Regions from separate parts of the Homo sapiens genome. Here region 1 is linked to region 2. The links come from fine-mapping of genetic effects on gene expression. A gene starts in region 2. The other region holds a variant in brackets. All regions are shown on one strand. Distances are between the middles of the regions. Region 1 overlaps COLGALT1 (collagen beta(1-O)galactosyltransferase 1). Region 2 holds the start of COLGALT1 (collagen beta(1-O)galactosyltransferase 1).

Region 1 (8,324 bases), 26 kb before region 2:
AAAAAAACAAAAAATCCAGTAGGAAAGATGTATTGTATAATGCTATCCACTGCAGGAAACAGCAGGGAATATTTTCCATAACAATCCAAAAAGAGCTCGTAGATGTTAACCCTATTTTGGAAAGGAGGTCCACAATAGTTGTTAAATTTAAAAATAAAAGTTGTTTTTTAAAAAATAGGTACAGTTTGATCCCATGCTTAGAAAATAAAAGTGCATTCCACGAAAAATAAAACGGCAAGTTGCAGTAGCTTAGGTAACATGGTCCTCCTTTTTTAAAAAATGCATATATATTTACACCATGCAAATAAGGAAGGCTGGAAAGTTTTTGAAAATGTTAGTTGTGTCTGAAAAGGTGTGATTTAATTTTTGCTTTGTCAATTTGCTTAGCTGTAAGTTCTGATTTTTTCCACACTGATTGAACACCATCAGTGTTAGGGTTTTTTGTTGTTGTTTGTTTTTTGTTTTTTGAGACAAGAGTGTTGCTCTGTCGCCCAGGCTGGAGTGCAGTGGCGTGATCTCGGCTCACTACAACCTCCGCCTCCCAGGTTCAAGTGATTCTTCTGCCTCAGCCTCCAAGTAGCTGGGACTACAGGCGCTCACCACCATGCCCAGCTAATTTTTCTGTATTTTTAGTAGAGACGGGGTTTCACCATATTGGCCAGGCTGGTCTCGAACTCCTGACCTCATGATCCACCAGCCTCGGCCTCCCAAAGTGCTGGGATTACAGGTGTGAGCCACCGCGCCTGGCCCCTGTGTTAGTTTATAAAAGTCTCGGGTATATTCTTGCACACCCTAAAGGTGTAATAATCCAGAGGATTTGTAAGCATTTGACCCAGAAAATCCAAATGCAACTGGGCATGTTGTAATGTCCAGCCCCCTCTCCCTGGGGTGGGACCACTCTTTCCCTTCTTGTCTCACTTCCCTACTGCTCCACAGCAAGTTCCTGGGGTCACTGATAACGTAAGTGCCCTTCAATCCTCATCTTGGAGTCTGTTTCAGGGGACCCAAACCATGACAGCCCCTCCTCATTTGAAGTCATCTGCGACGATCCTGTGGTTGATCCAAGATAGAATGAAGTTGGCCACCTGTCCCTGGGCTATTTCAGGGAAGTTTTCTGGTTTTGTTTTATAGAAACAGGGTCTTGCTCTGTTGCCCAGGCTGGAGTGCAGTGGTGTGATCATGGTTCACTGCAGCCTCAACCTCCTAGACTCAAGAGATACTCCTGCTTCAGCCTCCTGAGTAGCCAGATTACAGGTGTGCCCTACCATGCCCAACTAATTTCTCAATTTTTTTTGTAGAGACGAGGGTCTCACTCTGTTGCCCAAGCTGGTCTTGAGCTCCTGACCTCAAGCAATCCTCTCACCTCCTCAACCTCCCAAAGCATTGGGATTATAGGAGTGAGCCACCTCACCCAGCCTAATCCTTTTTTTTTTTTGAGATGGAGTCTCATTCTGTTGCCCAGGCTGGAGTGCAGTGGCAAGATTTCAGCTCACTGCAACCTCCACCTCCTGCGTTCAAGCGATTCTCCTGCCTCAGCCTCCCAAGTAGCTGGGACTACTGTCACACACCACCATGCCTGGCTGCTTTTTGCATTTTTAGTAGAGACGGGATTTCATCTTATTGATCAGGCTGGTCTCGAACTCCTGACCTCAGGTGATCCACCCACCTTGGCCTCCCAAAGTGCTGGGATTACAGGCGTGAACCACCATGCCCAGCCCTAATCCTCATGTTGAGGTCTGTTTTAGGGGGACTCAAAGCACGACAGCCCCTCTTTATTCGAAGTCATGTGGAAGGATCCTGAAGTTGACTCAAGACAGAGCTGTCGGTCCCCCGCCTGTTTGGGGGAAGTTTTATGGCATGAGGGGACACAGGGCTCTTACCACACCCTCACCCCACAGTAGCTCCACTGGCCAGCTTTTTTTTTTTTTTTTTGGTTTGATTGTGTCTTGCTCTGCCGCCCAGGCTGGAGGGCAGTGGCTCAATCTTGGGTCACTGCAACCTCCACCTCCCAGGTTCAAGCGATTCTCCTGCCTCAGCCTCCCAAGTAGCGAGGATTACAGGTACCCCCCCCCCGCCACCCCGCCCCACTACACTAGGCTAATTTTTGTACTTTTAATAGAGAGGGGGTTTCACCATGTTGGCCAGGCTGGTCTTGAATTCCTGACCTCAAGTGATCCGCCCACCTTAGCCTCCCAAAGCACCGGGATTACAGGCATGAGCCACCATGCCAGGCCCCACTGGGCAGCTTCCCTACTGCACCTGCCCTGGTTTCCTCCCAAATCTTGTCGGCCATCCAGGGGTGGGGAACGTGGGCAGTGTTTTGGTGCCGAGCAAAATCCCACAAACTGCTGTGAAAACCAACCAGGAACATTTATTAAAAAACTAAGCAAGTTATCCCCAAGAGGGTGAAGCACCGCTGGCTGGTTCTGACATTCGATTCAGGCTGAAGGCACGGCAACTCCTCCAGCCCTTGCTGGGAAATGTCCTACCCAGGCCACGGGCAGTGCCCCAGTGCAGCTGGGTCCCCTAAAAGCCCCCAAACACATGATCCCACCAAAGGCTTGAACAGAGCAACTTCATCAAGCAGGCAGGGACCACACCTGAGACACAAGGGCAAGGAGGTAAAGCACAGGGGACCGGGAGTGGGCCAGGGACACCCAGCCCCCGTCTCCAACTGGCGCCCCCTCCAGGGGGGCTAACATGTGGCGTGGGGCCACCAGGACCTGTGCTTGCCCCTGGTGGCGGAAGAGCTACCCTCCCTCTTGGGTGGTGGGGGGATGTTGTCTGCACACAGCTCAGACGACCGAGGGTACAGGAAGAATCAAACTCAGTCAACCATTCTTCAACCCAACTGGGAGTCTGTGAGGCCTGGCACACAGGTGCTCAATAAACACTTGTGGCATGAAGAAGTGAAGGAACCGATCTTGTTCATCTCTGTGCCCCAGCACTCGGCATGTAGCCCATGATCGAAAATGCAGACTGAACAACTGTCACACTCTTTTGTATCACTAGTGCCCGGCACACAGTCAGTGCTCTTCAGGTGTGTGGGAAAGAAGCCAATGAGTGAGAAGTTCCCACACCGTCTAGCAGTGAGGAAAAAAAGAAAAAAGTAAAAAGTACCTTGTTTACTCCCATTCCCATCCCATAGCTCAGCTCCCTGCACACAGCAGGTGCTCAGTAAGTGTACCGAATCAGGAACTTATCTTTGTGACATGAGTGCCAGGCACACAGTAGGTGACCAATATGTGCTTGAATAAATGGATAGAAGCATCTTATTTATCTCAATATTCCCAGAGCCTGGGCTGGGCACAGTGGCTCATGCCTGTAACCCTAGCACTTTGGGTGGCCAAGGCGGGCAGATCACTTGAGGTCAGGAGTTCGAGACCAGCCTGGCCAACATGGTGAAACCCCGTCTCTACTAAAAATACAAAAACTAGCCAGATGTGATGGCACGCACCTATAGTCCCAGCTACTTGGGAGGCCGAGAAACAAGAATTGCTGGACGCTGGGAGGCGCAGGCTGCAGTGAGCCGTCACACCACTGCACTCCAGCCTGGGTGACAGAGACAGACTCTACTCTTAAAAAAAAAAAAAAAAAAATCCCAGAGCCTGGAATGGCACCCAACACACAGTAGGCACTCAATAAATCCTTGAATGAATTTTAAAAATGAATGTGTATCACTAGTGCCTGATTCTTAATCTGATCAGTAACTGCTTGATGACTGAATCAATCGCTGATGGAGGGAACAATTATGCCTCATTCACTGCCGTAACATGGGAACCTTGCATACAGCAGGTGCTTAATAAATGCTGGGCACATGAACAGATGAAGAGGGCTTGGTTCCTCCCAATTCCCCAGGGCCAAGCCCTGTTGCTGGCATGCAGTAGGCACTCCATTAATGCTGCCTGTGTGCACGTGATTGCTTAGCAAGAGCTGGCTGGACACCACCCCACACGAGAGCCCTCTGTGGCCTGCCAAGGGGTCCAGAGGTGGACCTGATGTCCTCAGTAAGCACGTGGAGCCTGGGCCACCGATGGCTGCTTTGGCTTTCTGGCTGCTACCCCTCAGAGTTCATCCCGGGCAGCACTGTCCAGTGGGGACTGGAGCACGTCCGAGTTCTTGGCCTCACGGCTCAGTGCCTGCTGCTCCCGCATCTTCTGGGACTTGGCGCGGTCCCAGTCGGTCTTGACGTGCTCATTGTTCCATACGACTGAGGTCTCGGTGTCACTCACATAGCCATCGTCTCCTGTGTAGTGTGTGGGGTAGATGAGCAGCGGCTCCACAGAGAAGGCATGCAGGTTGCGGAGGGAGAAGTGGGCCTTGTACTCGGACCTGGGGGGAGGAGGAGGGGAGTGAGGGGCAGCAATGGCTTCAGGGGACGGGACAGCTGGAGGAAAAATTGGGGGTGAAGAAGTCAGCGGGGACAGATTAAAACGTAAGTGTGCAGGGGATACAAATGGAGACAGATCTGCGAGGGGGCAAACGGAGGGAGAAGTAGGCAAAAGAAGAGACATCTTCTCGGAGGCCGTGAGTCTCACATCCCCATTCTCCCAGGACAGACCCACC[G/A]TGAAACCCCAGCCCAGCAGCCGCCTGCCCCTCTCACACTGGGTGTTTGTCGAACATGACGGGCAGGAACTCGTCCACAGGCAGCATCTTGGAGAGCGGCTCAGCAGCCAGCAGTTTGCGGGCGCCTTGCAGGGAGATCACGTAGGCCAGGGTCCAGTAGGAATAGTCGGCCTCCACCAGGTTCCTCACGCGAGGCACAGCCTTCTCGGGGTGCTCCACCTGCATCCGCTTCCGGCCCACATAGCTGGGGTGCAAGATCGGGCCTGTCACTCTCCTCCCGCCCTCCGGAGGGAGCTTGCCCAGAAAGCCAGGGATCTAGTTACCCCGTCAGGTCCTGGGATGGGAGCAGGCTCAGCATGTTTGCAGAGCTCTGTGACTGGATGGAGTGAATGCAGGAGCCCAGGGGTCTGGCGGTCATGGGGGAGAAGAGTGAGTTTTTCCAAAGGGCGTGAGGGAGCCATGGAGGATCTGGAGCTGGGGAGAGCAGGATCACGCAGACGTTCTCTGAGGCTGAAGCTGCTCTGAGTTCAGAGGACAGTGGGGGTGGAGGTGGGCGAGGTGCCCTGATGGGGGGGCAGTCAGGAATGGAGGGGTGCAGTTACTATTCACATGGGGCAGTGTTCCCAGAATGCAGATTAGGGCACTGCACATGGAAGGGAAAAAAGAGATGGAGGAAGGGAGAGGACAAACCAGCCCACTTACAGAAGAGAAGGACGGCTCCAGTGCTGGAAACATGTTGGTGGCACTCCCATCCAGGGGCTTGTCTAAGACCAGGCGCCCTGGCCACGCCCCCACACTCTTCGGCCACACCTCCAGCTCTGACCACACCCCCATGCTCTTCAGCCACGCCCACAGGCTGCCCGGTCAAATTTTAGCCACATCCACCTCCACAGGCCTCAGTCAAGTCTCTAAGCCTTGACCAAGCCTGCAGGCTTCCGGCCAGGTCCCTTGAGTTCTGGGTGATCCTTCCAACGCCCTTCCCTATAGGCTACAGCCCTGACAGTGCCTTCAGGCCCAGGAACCACGTGAGCCCTCCTGCTACGCTTCCAAGGGTTGGCCACGCCTGCCACCCTGACCACACCCAGACATACAGGCTCTAGGCTCAGCTGCAGCGCTGTGGCCACGCCCGTAGGATTCAGCTCCACTCCGCCTCCCAGCCCCACCTCTAAGCCCTGGCCATGTACCTAGGCTCCAGTTCCACCCCACCTTCAAGCCCCGCCTCTAAGCCATGACCCATCCCCAGGTCCCAGCTCCACCCTGCCCCCACCCCCACCTCTAAGTCCTGGCCTTGCCCCAGGCCCCAGCTTCACCCCATCCTCAGACCCCCACTCACATGAGGTCCCAGTCCAGGCCCTCCCGCTCCACATCCCGCATGAGGTTCATCAGACGTCTCTTGAAGAAGATCTCAAAACGCAGGTCATCCTCAAACACAAGCGATTTCTGCAGCCCCCGGTCCACCACCTGAGGGAGGAAGCCCCGCCACATCACAGGGAGGCCAAGGCCAGGCCTGACCCTAAAGCACAGAGCTTTGCTTTGAGAAGGTTTGAAAGACCCGTAGAGAAGCCAGTGCATCTCCCTGCCTCTCCTAGCTCCAGGGACATCTGGACATCCAAACCTCTGCCCTCTGCCGTCCATAATGGATCTCAGAAGAGAAAGGCCTCCCAGCCCCTCAAATGCCCACGCCTCATGCACCTCCCGCCTTGCAGCCGCACACCCCCATTTGGCTTCACATTCGATAACAAGTTTTTCTTTTCTTTTTCTTTTTTTTTTTTTTTGAGACGGAGTCTCGCCCTGTCGCCCAGGCTGGAGTGCAGTGGAACGATCTCAACTGCAACCTCCGCCTCCCAGGTTCAAGTAATTCTGCCTCAGCCTCCTGAGCAGCTGGGATTACAGGCATGTGCCACTACGCCCGGATTTTATTTTTCTTTTTTTGAGATGGAGTGTCACTCTTGTCGCCCAGGCTGGAGTGCAATGGCATGATTTCAGCCCACTGCAACCTCTGCCTCCTGGGTTCAAGTGATTCTCCTGCCTCAGTCTCCCAAGTAGAGGGATTACAGGTGCCCACCACCACACCCAGATAATTTTTGTATTTTTAGTAGAGTCTAGGTTTCACCATGTTGGCCAGGCTGGTCTTGAACTCCTGACCTAAGGTGATCCGCCTGCCTCGGCCTCCCAAAGTGCTGAGATTACAGGCATGAGCCACCACGCCCAGCCATTTTTCTTTTTTCTGAGACACGGTTTTGCTCTGCTGTCCAGTCTGCAGTGCAGTGGCACGATCTTGGCTGACTGCAGCCTTAACTCCTGGGCTCAAGCCACTCTCCCACTTTAGCCTCCCAAATAGTTGGGACCACAGGTGTGCGCCACCATGCCCGGCCCTGATGGCCCAAGTTCGAAGCCTAGTCAGACACCCTCCTCCAATCACAGCCTCTCCCTCTGAGGGTGGATGAGGATGCCTGGGCTGGTGAGTGCCCCCAGCAGCACTGGGCAGGTGCTGGTTTAAAGTGGCTCTGTGGCCATGACTTCTAGTACTAAACATCAAGCACAGAGACCAGGCTGGGAGTAATGAGGATTTGTTTACAGGTCCCAGGCCCCAGACACCACCTGCTGCTCAAAAGGGCTCACCCCTACCCCCAGGCTCAGTTTCCACATTTGCGCAATGGAAGGATGGCAGGTACACCTGGGGGTGATACAGCTGGTGTGGCGCATCATTCACTAAAGAGAGGCCATGGGTCCCATGGCTGAGGCTGGATGCCTAGCCGGGGCTTTGGGGAACTCTTTCAACCCCTTTCCCGTCCAAATCTCCGATGAGATCTAGAGTCATAACTCTGGCCCCGCCCATCACTCAGGACACACCTCCTTCCAGATGTTGTAGTGGCTCAGGAAGCAGCCCAGCTCACCCTTGGTGAGGGGCCGGCCGTGGTAGGGGTCCCGGTAGCCAGGCAGCATCTGGATCCCCAGCGCCTCCACCTGGCTGGTGTTCATGGCTCTGGAGAGGAGGAGGAGAGGGTCACGAAGAAGGTTCACCCTGCCTGCCATTCTGCCATCCCCGGCCATTCCACCACCCCCTGCGGCGTTGAGCAGCTGGTCCACCTCTTGTAGCACTGGCACCCCTTCCGGGCACATGGGGCCTCACTCACCTGCACATGGTATACACTCGCGGGCAAACCTGCTCTCCTCCTCTCCTGGGGTCTGACTGACTTACCCCTCCACAGTCCCCACCAGTCTACACTGGCAGCATGCAAACCTACCCATTCCCCTGGGTCAGGACTCACTTGCCTTCCATGGTCTACAACTGTGAGGATCTGCCCCTTCCCCAGGGTCCCATTCACTTCCCCTTCAGGACGCCCACTGACGAGGTCTACATCTGTTTGGACACCACGCCCGCCCCCATCTGAATCACTTGCCGTCTACCAGCGAGGTCTACACCCACATCCACGTGCGGACCCGCCCCCCCACCCCCAGGCCTCGGACTCACTTGCCGTCCACGGCCTCCACCAGCCGGCACTCGATCTCCTGTGCCTGCAGCGCCCGCAGCATGCGCTCCCGCCGGTCCTGCCGCCGCCTCAGGTTGATCATGAAGACCTGCAGCCCGGAGAGTCCCCAGCCAGATCAGCCCCTGCAAACAAGGGCCCTCCAGCCCCCGCCCCGCCTCCAGGGAAGGCCCAGCTCACCTCGTCGAAGCCCATCTTGTCCGGTGTCTTGGTGGGAGCCGAGATGAAGCGGGAGGGCTCTGCGGGCGGGTGCTTCACTGTGGGGCA
Region 2 (8,324 bases):
CCTGGACAGGACACTTCTCCCTTTCCTTTGTTTTTTTTTGAGACAGAGTCTCGCTCTGTTGCCCAGGCTGGAGTGCAGTGGCGCGATCTCGGCTCACTGCAAGCTCCGCCTCCCGGGTTCACGCCTTCTCCTGTCTCAGCCTCCCAAGTAGCTGGGACTACAGGCGCCCGCCACCACACCCGGCTAATTTTTTTGTATTTTTAGTAGAGACGGGGTTTCACCATGTTGGCCAGGCTGGTCTCGATCTCCTGACCTCGTGATCCGCCCACCTTGGCCTCCCAAAGTGCTGGACTTAACAAGCGTGAGCCACCGCGCCCGGCCCATTTCTCCCTTTCCATGTCAGTTTCCTCATCTGTAACATGGGGGTGGGAACAGGACCCAGTTTACTGGGAAGTGGAAGGATTAAACAAGCTGATTTTGGAAAGACCCATTAGTGATTGGCTGTTTTATTACTGAGCATCTAAGATCTTGCAAACCACATTCACTAACAAATATGTGTCACTTAATTTTTTTTTTCTTTTGAGACAGAGTCTTGCTCTGTCACCCAGGCTAGAGTGCAGTGGCACAATCTTGGTTCACTGCAATCTCCGCCTACCAGGTCCAAGCAATTCTCCTGCCTCAGCCTCCCGAGTAGCTGGGATTACAGGTGCCCACCACCATGCCCAGCTAATTTTTGCATTTTTAGTAGAGATGGGGTTTCGCCATGTTGGCCAGGCTGCTCTCGAACTCCTGACCTCAGGTGATCCACCTGCCTCAGCCTCCCAAAGTGCTGGGATGACAGGAATGAGCCACCGCACACGGCAATTTTTGTAATGTATAGATCAGGCCAGGCACGGTGGCTCACGCCTGTCATCCCAGCACTTTGAGAGGCCGAGGCGGGTGTATCACCTGAGGTCAGGAGTTTGAGACCAGCCTGGCCAACATGGCGAAACCCCATCTCTACTAAAAATACAAAAATTAGGCCGGGCATGGTGGCTCACGCTTGTAATTCCAGCACTTTGGGAGGCCGAGGCGGGTGAATCACTTGAGGCCAGGAGTTTGAGCCTAGCCTGGCCAACATGGTGAAATCCCATCTCTACTAAAAACACAAAAAATTAGCTGGGTGTGGTGGCGGGCACCTGTAATCCCAGCTACTCAGGAGGCCGAGGCAGGAGAATCGCTTGAACCTGGGAGGAGGAGGTTGCAGTGAGCCGAGATCGTGCCACTGCACTCCAGCCTCAGCAACGAGAGCGAGACTCAGTCTCAAAAAATAAATAAATAAAAAATATTAAAAAATGAAATGTATATATCAGAAACCAGCTGGGTGCAATGGCTCACGCCTGTAATCCCAATATGTTGGGAGGCCGAGGTGGGCAGGTCACTTGAGCTCGGGAGTTCGAGACCAGCCTGGCCAATAGGGCAAAACCCCATCTCTAGAAAAAATACAAAAATTAGCTGGGCGCAGTGGCATACGCCTGTAGTCCCAGTTACTCAAGAAGCTGAGGCAGGAGAATCACTTGAGCCCAGGAGGGGGAAGTTGCAGTGAGCTAGGATTGCACCACTGCACTCCCGCCTGGGCGACAGATGTAAAACCCTGTATCAAAAAAAAAAGTATATCTCAGCAGGGCGCTGTGGCTCATGCCTGTAATCCCAGCACTTAGGGAGGCCGAGGCAGGCAGATCATGAGGTCAGGAGATCAACACAAGCCTGGCCACAATGGTGAAACCCTGACTCTATTAAAAATACAAAAATTAGCCAGGCATGGTGGTGCGCACCTGTAATCCCAAGCTACTCGGGAGGCTGAGGCAGGAGAATCACTTGAACCCGGAGGCGGAGGTTGCAATGAGCTGAGATCGTGTCACTGTACTCCAGCCTGGGCGACAGAGCAAGATTCCGTCTGAGAGAAAAAAAAAAGTATATCTCAAAGTATATCTCATAAATCCCTTACCCTGCCTTCATCTTCTCCTGTGAGCCACACCACTTCAGTGGGCTGCAGTCAATTATTCATTCAACAAACATTTGTTAAGTACCAATTGTGTATTTGGATTATCCAGACTGAGAAATCAGGTGGAAGGAAAAGCGACATTTGGGAGTTTAGTTTGACCGTAGTGCCAAAAGCTAATTCTGCCCAATAAATTAAGTTGACAATAACACCAGCAATGACAGTAATCATGATAATAAAATCACTGAGAGCCAAGCCCATGCCAGACCCAAGGGCTCCACATCCATTAACTGGATAATCTTCAGAGACAAACCCAAAAAGAGAATTATATTAATACGCTCATTTTCTTTTCTTTTTCTTTTTTTAGAGGCAGGTCTTACTCTGTAGCCCAGGCTGGAGTGCAGTGGTGCAATCATAGGTCACTGCAGCCTCGAACTCCTGGGCTCAAGCGATTCTCCTGCGTCAGCCTCCTGAATAGCTGGGACTACAGGCACACACCACCGCACCTGGCTAATTTTTGTATTTTTTTTCTAGAGACGGGGTTTTGCCATGTTGGCAAGGCTGGTGTCGAACTCCTGAGCTCAAGTGACCCGCTTACCTTGGCCTCCCAAATTGCTAGGATTACTGCGTGAGCCACTGCACCCGGACCCATTTTCCATTTGAGAAAACTGAGGCAGGGAGTGAGAAGTCACCAGTCAAAGGTTTCTTCAGAGCTCTGCCCCATTCCCTACCAAGAAAGCATCCACTTCCTCCTGGGCCATCTGGTCCTGGACTCCACCCACGCCGGTCTGAGGGCAGGGGTTTGACTGGGGCCTGGAGCCAGGCTGAGTTCAAGCTTAAGGGCAGCAGCCGGCACAGAAAGGCTTGCTGTTAGATGTGGCCTCTGGCAACGCCCCAGTGGGGGCTCTGGGCTCCGTCCTTTGGAGGTGTACGTGCCCCAGAGGGAGTTAGAGCCCCAGTTAGTGAGGCCGGAGCTGCCCTAGTAGGGTCCAGCAGGCAGAAGCGGTGCCCAGCCCACCCCAAAGGAGCCAGCAGGAGGAACTCGGTCCCGCTTGTGTTGTGGGGAGGGCTGTGTCTGGCCCCATGGGAGGACAGCAGGCAGGGGGCACGCGTGGACCCGTCCCGATGGGGGCAGCGGGCAGGGGCATGCGTAGAACCGTCCCGATGGGGGTAGCGAGCAGGAAGCACGCGCGGACCCGCCCAGAAGAGGACAGCGGGCAGGGGCTCGCGTGGACCCACCCCTATGGGGACAGCAAGCAGGGGCTCGCGTGACCCGCCTGATGGGGACAGCGGGCTCGACTCACCATAGCGCCGTGCGCTCCCGCGGGTGCCGCAGCCGCTCGAGTGCGCCCAGCGTGGTGGGCAACGCGTGGGCCGCGTTTCGCGCCAACAGCGCGATGAGCACGCGCGGCGCCTGCAGGGGCGACTCCGGGCTCCAGCGCTCCTCGGGGAAGTAGGCGTCGGCGCCCGGCGGGGCCCCCGGCGGCAGTGGCGCCAGCAGCAGAAGCAGCAGCGCCAGGAGCGGCTGCCCGCGCCGCCGGCCCGCGCGTGGGGCCGCCGCCATCGCGCCACGCGTCTCCTTTAAGTCGTTTTTCTGCGGGAGGACTCTGGCCGCGCCTTAAAGGGGTCATAGGGGCCCCGCCCGGCCGCGCGCCTTAAAGGGGAGGAGCGCGCCGGGCGTGAAGTCCAGGCCCCGCCTCCAGACGCTCTCCGAGTCCCAAGGCCCGGAGTGACGTCACCTGCAGCCCTACCCAGGACGCCCCGCCCCCGCACCGATCTTAAAGGCACATAGCGCTCGGAGCGCGTGGAAGGGATGTTAGGGGTAGCGTTAGGGTTAGGAACCCGCGCTTCCTCCAGGCGCCTCCTACCACTGAGACCTCCGCCAGATGCGCCGCCCAATTTCCCCATGTATAAAACCCGGGCTGTGCCACCAGGCGGACTTGGCTACTTAGGACCTGGTTTGGGACCCAAGAGACCTTAGCCTCAGTTTCCTCTGCTGCAACGTGGGTTTTGCCATCCTGGTTTTGGATCTCACAGGGATGTCATTGAGGGTTGTGGAGAATAAAGGTCATGACGTCCACAGACCTGGCGTCACATTCAGTCCCCGCCTTGGGCTTGCTATATGTGAGCCTCAGTCTGTCCATCTATAAAATGAGATCATAGAGACCCTATAGGGTTGGCGTGAAAATAGAGCCAGGGCATGATAATGGACCGTTCTGGGCACAAGCTCTTCCAGAGACAAGGGCCATGTTTTCATGGAAACGCTGTCAAGGGATTGTTTTCCAATACTCTAGAGCCGCATTTTCAAATTGATTGACTTAGTATCACACTTTTTTTTTTTTTTTTTTGAGACGGAGTCTGGCTTTGTTGCCCGGGCTGGAGTGCAGTGGTGCAACATAGCAAGACCGTGCCTCTATTTTTAAAAACAATAAAAACTTTAAAAAATACATCTGAACATTATTATTATTATTATTATTATTTTCTTTTTTTTTTTTTTTGAGACAGCGTCTCACTCCATTGCCCCGGCTAGAGTACAGTGGCGCGATCTCGGCTCACTGCAACCTCCGCCTCCCGGGTTCAAGCGATTCTCCTGCTTCAGCCTCCTGAGTAGCTGGGACTACAGGCACGCGCCACCACGCCCGGCTAATTTTTGTTTATAGTAGAGATGGGGTTTCACCATATTGGCCAGGCTGGTCTCGAACTCCTGACCTCCTGATCCGCCCACCTCAGCCTCCCAAAGTGCTGGGATTACAGGCGTGAGCCACCGCGCCCAGCTTATTATTATTTTCACAGAGAGGGTCTTACTCTGTGGCTCAGGCTAGAGTGCAGTGGCATGATCACATGATCATGGCTCACTGCAGCCTCAACCTCCTGGGCTCAACTGATCCTCCTGCCTCAGCCTCCCAAGTAGCTGGGACTACAAGTGCACTCAACCACGCCCAGCTAATTTTTAAATTTTTTGTAGAGATGGAGTCTCGCTATGTTGCCCCGGCTGTTCTCAAACTCCTGGTCTCAAGTAATCCTCCCCCTTCAGCCTCCCAAACTGCTGGGATTACCAGTGAGCCATCATGCCCCGCTAAAACTTAATTTTTAAGAATGATACAGGCCAGGTGCAGTGGCTCACGCCTGTAATCCCAGCATTTTGGGAGGCTGAGGCAGGCGGATCACTTGAGGTCAGGAGTTCGAGACCAGCTTGGTCAATATGGTGAAGCCCCCATCTCTTCTAAAAACACAAAAAATTAGCCGGTCATGGTGGCGCTTCGCCTGTAATCCCAGCTACTACGGAGGCCGAGGCAGGAGAATCACTTGAACCCAGGAGGTGGAGGTTGCAGTGAGCCAAAATCGCACCACTGCATTCCAGCCTGGGTGACAGAGTGAGACACCGTCTCAAAAAAAAAAAAAAAAAGGTAAAAACAAATTTACACTCTGTGGACTTGATGAGGAAAGGTCTTTTCATATTAAGTAAGAAAAAGGAGGTGACAAGATACATCCCATCCCATCTGGAAGGATTTAGACCCAAGGGCAAACAATGTTTTTCTCAAAAGGGGCAGGATGACAAATTCTTGTAGCTGCAATTGTTCCAGAATTAACATCTACATCCCGTCCGGGGTAAAAGGAAGACAGCTAAAGAAGCCTATGAAGTGCAAATGTATTGAGCAAATGTATTTCGGAAGGTGGGGTTGGAGGGAAATAGGTGGAAAGGTCAGGAATATCTCATTGTCTTGGGGTAGGCCGAAAACTCCAGACAGAATGGGAGGAAACGGTCTCCAGGGAGTGTGAAAGTCCCTCTGCAAGCTGAACCAAGAACACACGGGAATCCCTGTGGAACCCACTCCGGAAGCAGCTGCAAGACAGCAGAGAAGCTGCCAATATCCAGTTAGCAGATGACTTTGCTGGCAAGCAGAGGAAGTCGGTAAAAGCTTGTCTCCCAGCCAGGAAACTTGACACCAAGTTAAGATTTGGAGCTAGGAAACAAACCCAAAAGGCTCACAGCAAGCGGAGAAAAAAACCCCAAAATCTGTAACCTGTATCACAAAGCGTTCATATCCTTCAGATATAAAGAGTTATTAGATATCAATAAGAAAAATGCAAACACTCCTGAAAAGTAGAAAAAAGCTATGAACAGGCAATTCACTGAAATTAAAAAAAAAAAAACTACAAACATGTAAATGGCTAATCAACATATTTGGATTTTGTTTTTTGAGACAGGGTCTCACTCCCATCACCCAGGCTGGAGTGCAGTGGTGCAATCACCACTCACTGCAGCCTTGAGTTCCCAGGCTCAGGTAAATCTCCCATCTCAGCCCAGCTTCTTTTAAATTTTATTTATTTATTTATTTATTTATTTATTTATTTATTTATTTTATTTTTTAGTAGAGACAGGTTTCACCACATTGCCCAAGCTGGCCTCAAAACTCCTTGGCTCAAGCAATCCACCTGTCTCAGCCTCCCAAAGTGCTGGGATGACAGGCGTGAGCCACCACTCCCGGCCGCTAATTTTGTATTTTTTGTAGAGATGAGGTCTCACTATGTTCGCCAGGCTGGTCTTGAACTCCTGAGCTCAAGTGATCTGCCCGCCTCAGCCTCCCAAAGTGCTGGGATTACAGGTGTGCACTGCCACGCCTGGCCATAATAAACTTATTTGTAAGTTCAATTTAGTCAAAGAAATTCAAAATAAAATCATGAGATTTCTGTGTGTGTCTAACTGGCATAGCTTTTTTCTTTTCATGAAAAGTCCTAGTGTTTAGAAAGGATTTGGAGGCTGGACATAGTGGATCACTCCTATAATCCTAGCACTTTGGGAGGCCAAGGCAGGAGGATTGCTTGAGTCCAGGAGTTTGAGATCAGCCTGGGCAGCATAGCGAGACCTTGTCTCTATTATTTAAAAAAAAAAAATTAGGCCACGTGTGGTGGCTCACACCTGTAATCCCAGCACTTTGGGAGGCTGAGGGGGGCAGATCACTTAAGGACAGGAGTTCGAGACCAGCCTGGCCAACATGGTGAAACCCCATCTCTACTAAAAACACAAAAATTAACCAGGCATGGTGGCGGGTGCCTGAAATCTCAGCTACTCGGGAGGCTGAGGCAGGAGAATCGCTTGAACCCGGGAGGCGGAGGTTGCAGTGAGCCGAGATCCTGCCACTGCACTCCAGCCCGGGTGACAGAGCAAGACTCAGTCTCAAAAAAAAAAAAAAAATTAAAATAAAGAAAGCCTTGGGGAAAATACACAAATAAATGCTGCTGCTTGGAGTATAAAATGGTACAGTTTTCTGAAGTTGCAGGGGTTACAAAAGCCTAAAGATGGCACATCCGTTTTGGCCCAGAAATTCCACTTGTAGACATTTATCCAATAGAAACAAGATAGATGTGGGTGAAGATTCAGCTCCGGAATGTTCCTGGAGAAGGCGGTGGGCAGAGTGGCTGGATCTGGGCACCAGAGTCTGGCTGCCTGGGACAAGCCCCTCCTTCCCGCTCAGCCTCAGTTTCCTCATCTGTATAATGGAAAATATACGGACGTCAAAAATCAGATGTGTCAGATGCCTGGCATGTAATAAGTGCTTAAAAAATCAGAGTTAATAGAGATGTTGGCTGGGCGCAATGGCTCATGCCTGTAATCCCAGCACTCTGGGAGACCAAGGATCAGGAGTTCAAGACCAGCTTGGCCAACATGGTGAAACCTCATCTTTACTAAAAATACAAAAATTAGCTGGGCATGGTGGTGGGCGCCTGTAATCCCAGCTACTCGGGAGGCTGAGGCATGAGAATCGCTTGAACCCGAGAGGCAGAGGTTGCAGTTAGCCGAGATCGCGCCATTGCACTCCAGCCCGGGTGACAAGAGCGAAACTCCATCTCAAAAAATAAAAATAAAAAAAAAGAAATGTAGGCCGGGTGCAGTGGCTCACGCTTGTAATCCCAGCACTTTGGGAGGCCGAGGCAGGTGGATCACCTGAGGTCAGGAGTTCAAAATCAGCCTGGCCGACATGGTGAAACCCCATGTCTACTAAAAATACAAAAGTAGCCGGGCGTGGTGGTGGACGCCTGTAATCCCAGCTACTGGGGAGGCTGAGGCAGGAGAATTGCTTGAACCCGCAAGGTGGAGGTTACAGTGAGCCAAGATGCTGCCACTGCACTCCAGCCTGGTGACAGAGCGACACTCCATCTCAAAAAATAAATAAATAAATAAATAAAAAGAAAAAGAAATGTATAAGCAGCCAAAAGATGAAAGGGTGAAGGATAGGAGAGAAGGTTCTCAGAAAAGGAGCTAAAAGCAGCTCCTAAACCTCCCGGACAAAGGTGAGGGGCACCAGTGAGGCTACCCTGGTGGACAGCCCTCTGTTGAAATGACAAACACACATACTTTAAATTCTGAGGGTTCCCATTGCGGGATTTGCCCACAGGAACC

The links.
Region 1: its variant is fine-mapped to the expression of COLGALT1 in whole blood (TOPMed, PIP above 0.99).

What each region holds. Positions count from the first base shown.
Region 1 is chr19:17,577,185-17,585,508 of GRCh38, reverse strand. COLGALT1 (collagen beta(1-O)galactosyltransferase 1) reads right to left here. Exons shown (of 12, transcript NM_024656.4): 7 at 8,238-8,314; 8 at 8,042-8,148; 9 at 7,420-7,552; 10 at 5,900-6,027; 11 at 4,604-4,810; 12 at 2,352-4,332. The coding sequence ends at 4,065. Among named protein-coding and RNA genes, the nearest start is that of COLGALT1, 26 kb to the right of the region's middle. RefSeq lists enhancers at 5,275-5,569, 5,404-5,613. The variant G/A (reference allele first, on the strand shown) is at 4,567.
Region 2 is chr19:17,550,875-17,559,198 of GRCh38, reverse strand. It overlaps COLGALT1 (collagen beta(1-O)galactosyltransferase 1), which reads right to left and starts at 3,550. Exons shown (of 12, transcript NM_024656.4): 1 at 3,226-3,550. The coding sequence starts at 3,485. NIBAN3 (niban apoptosis regulator 3) reads right to left here. Exons shown (of 15, transcript NM_001321827.2): 15 at 5,559-7,413. The coding sequence ends at 7,301. RefSeq lists a silencer at 3,383-3,472.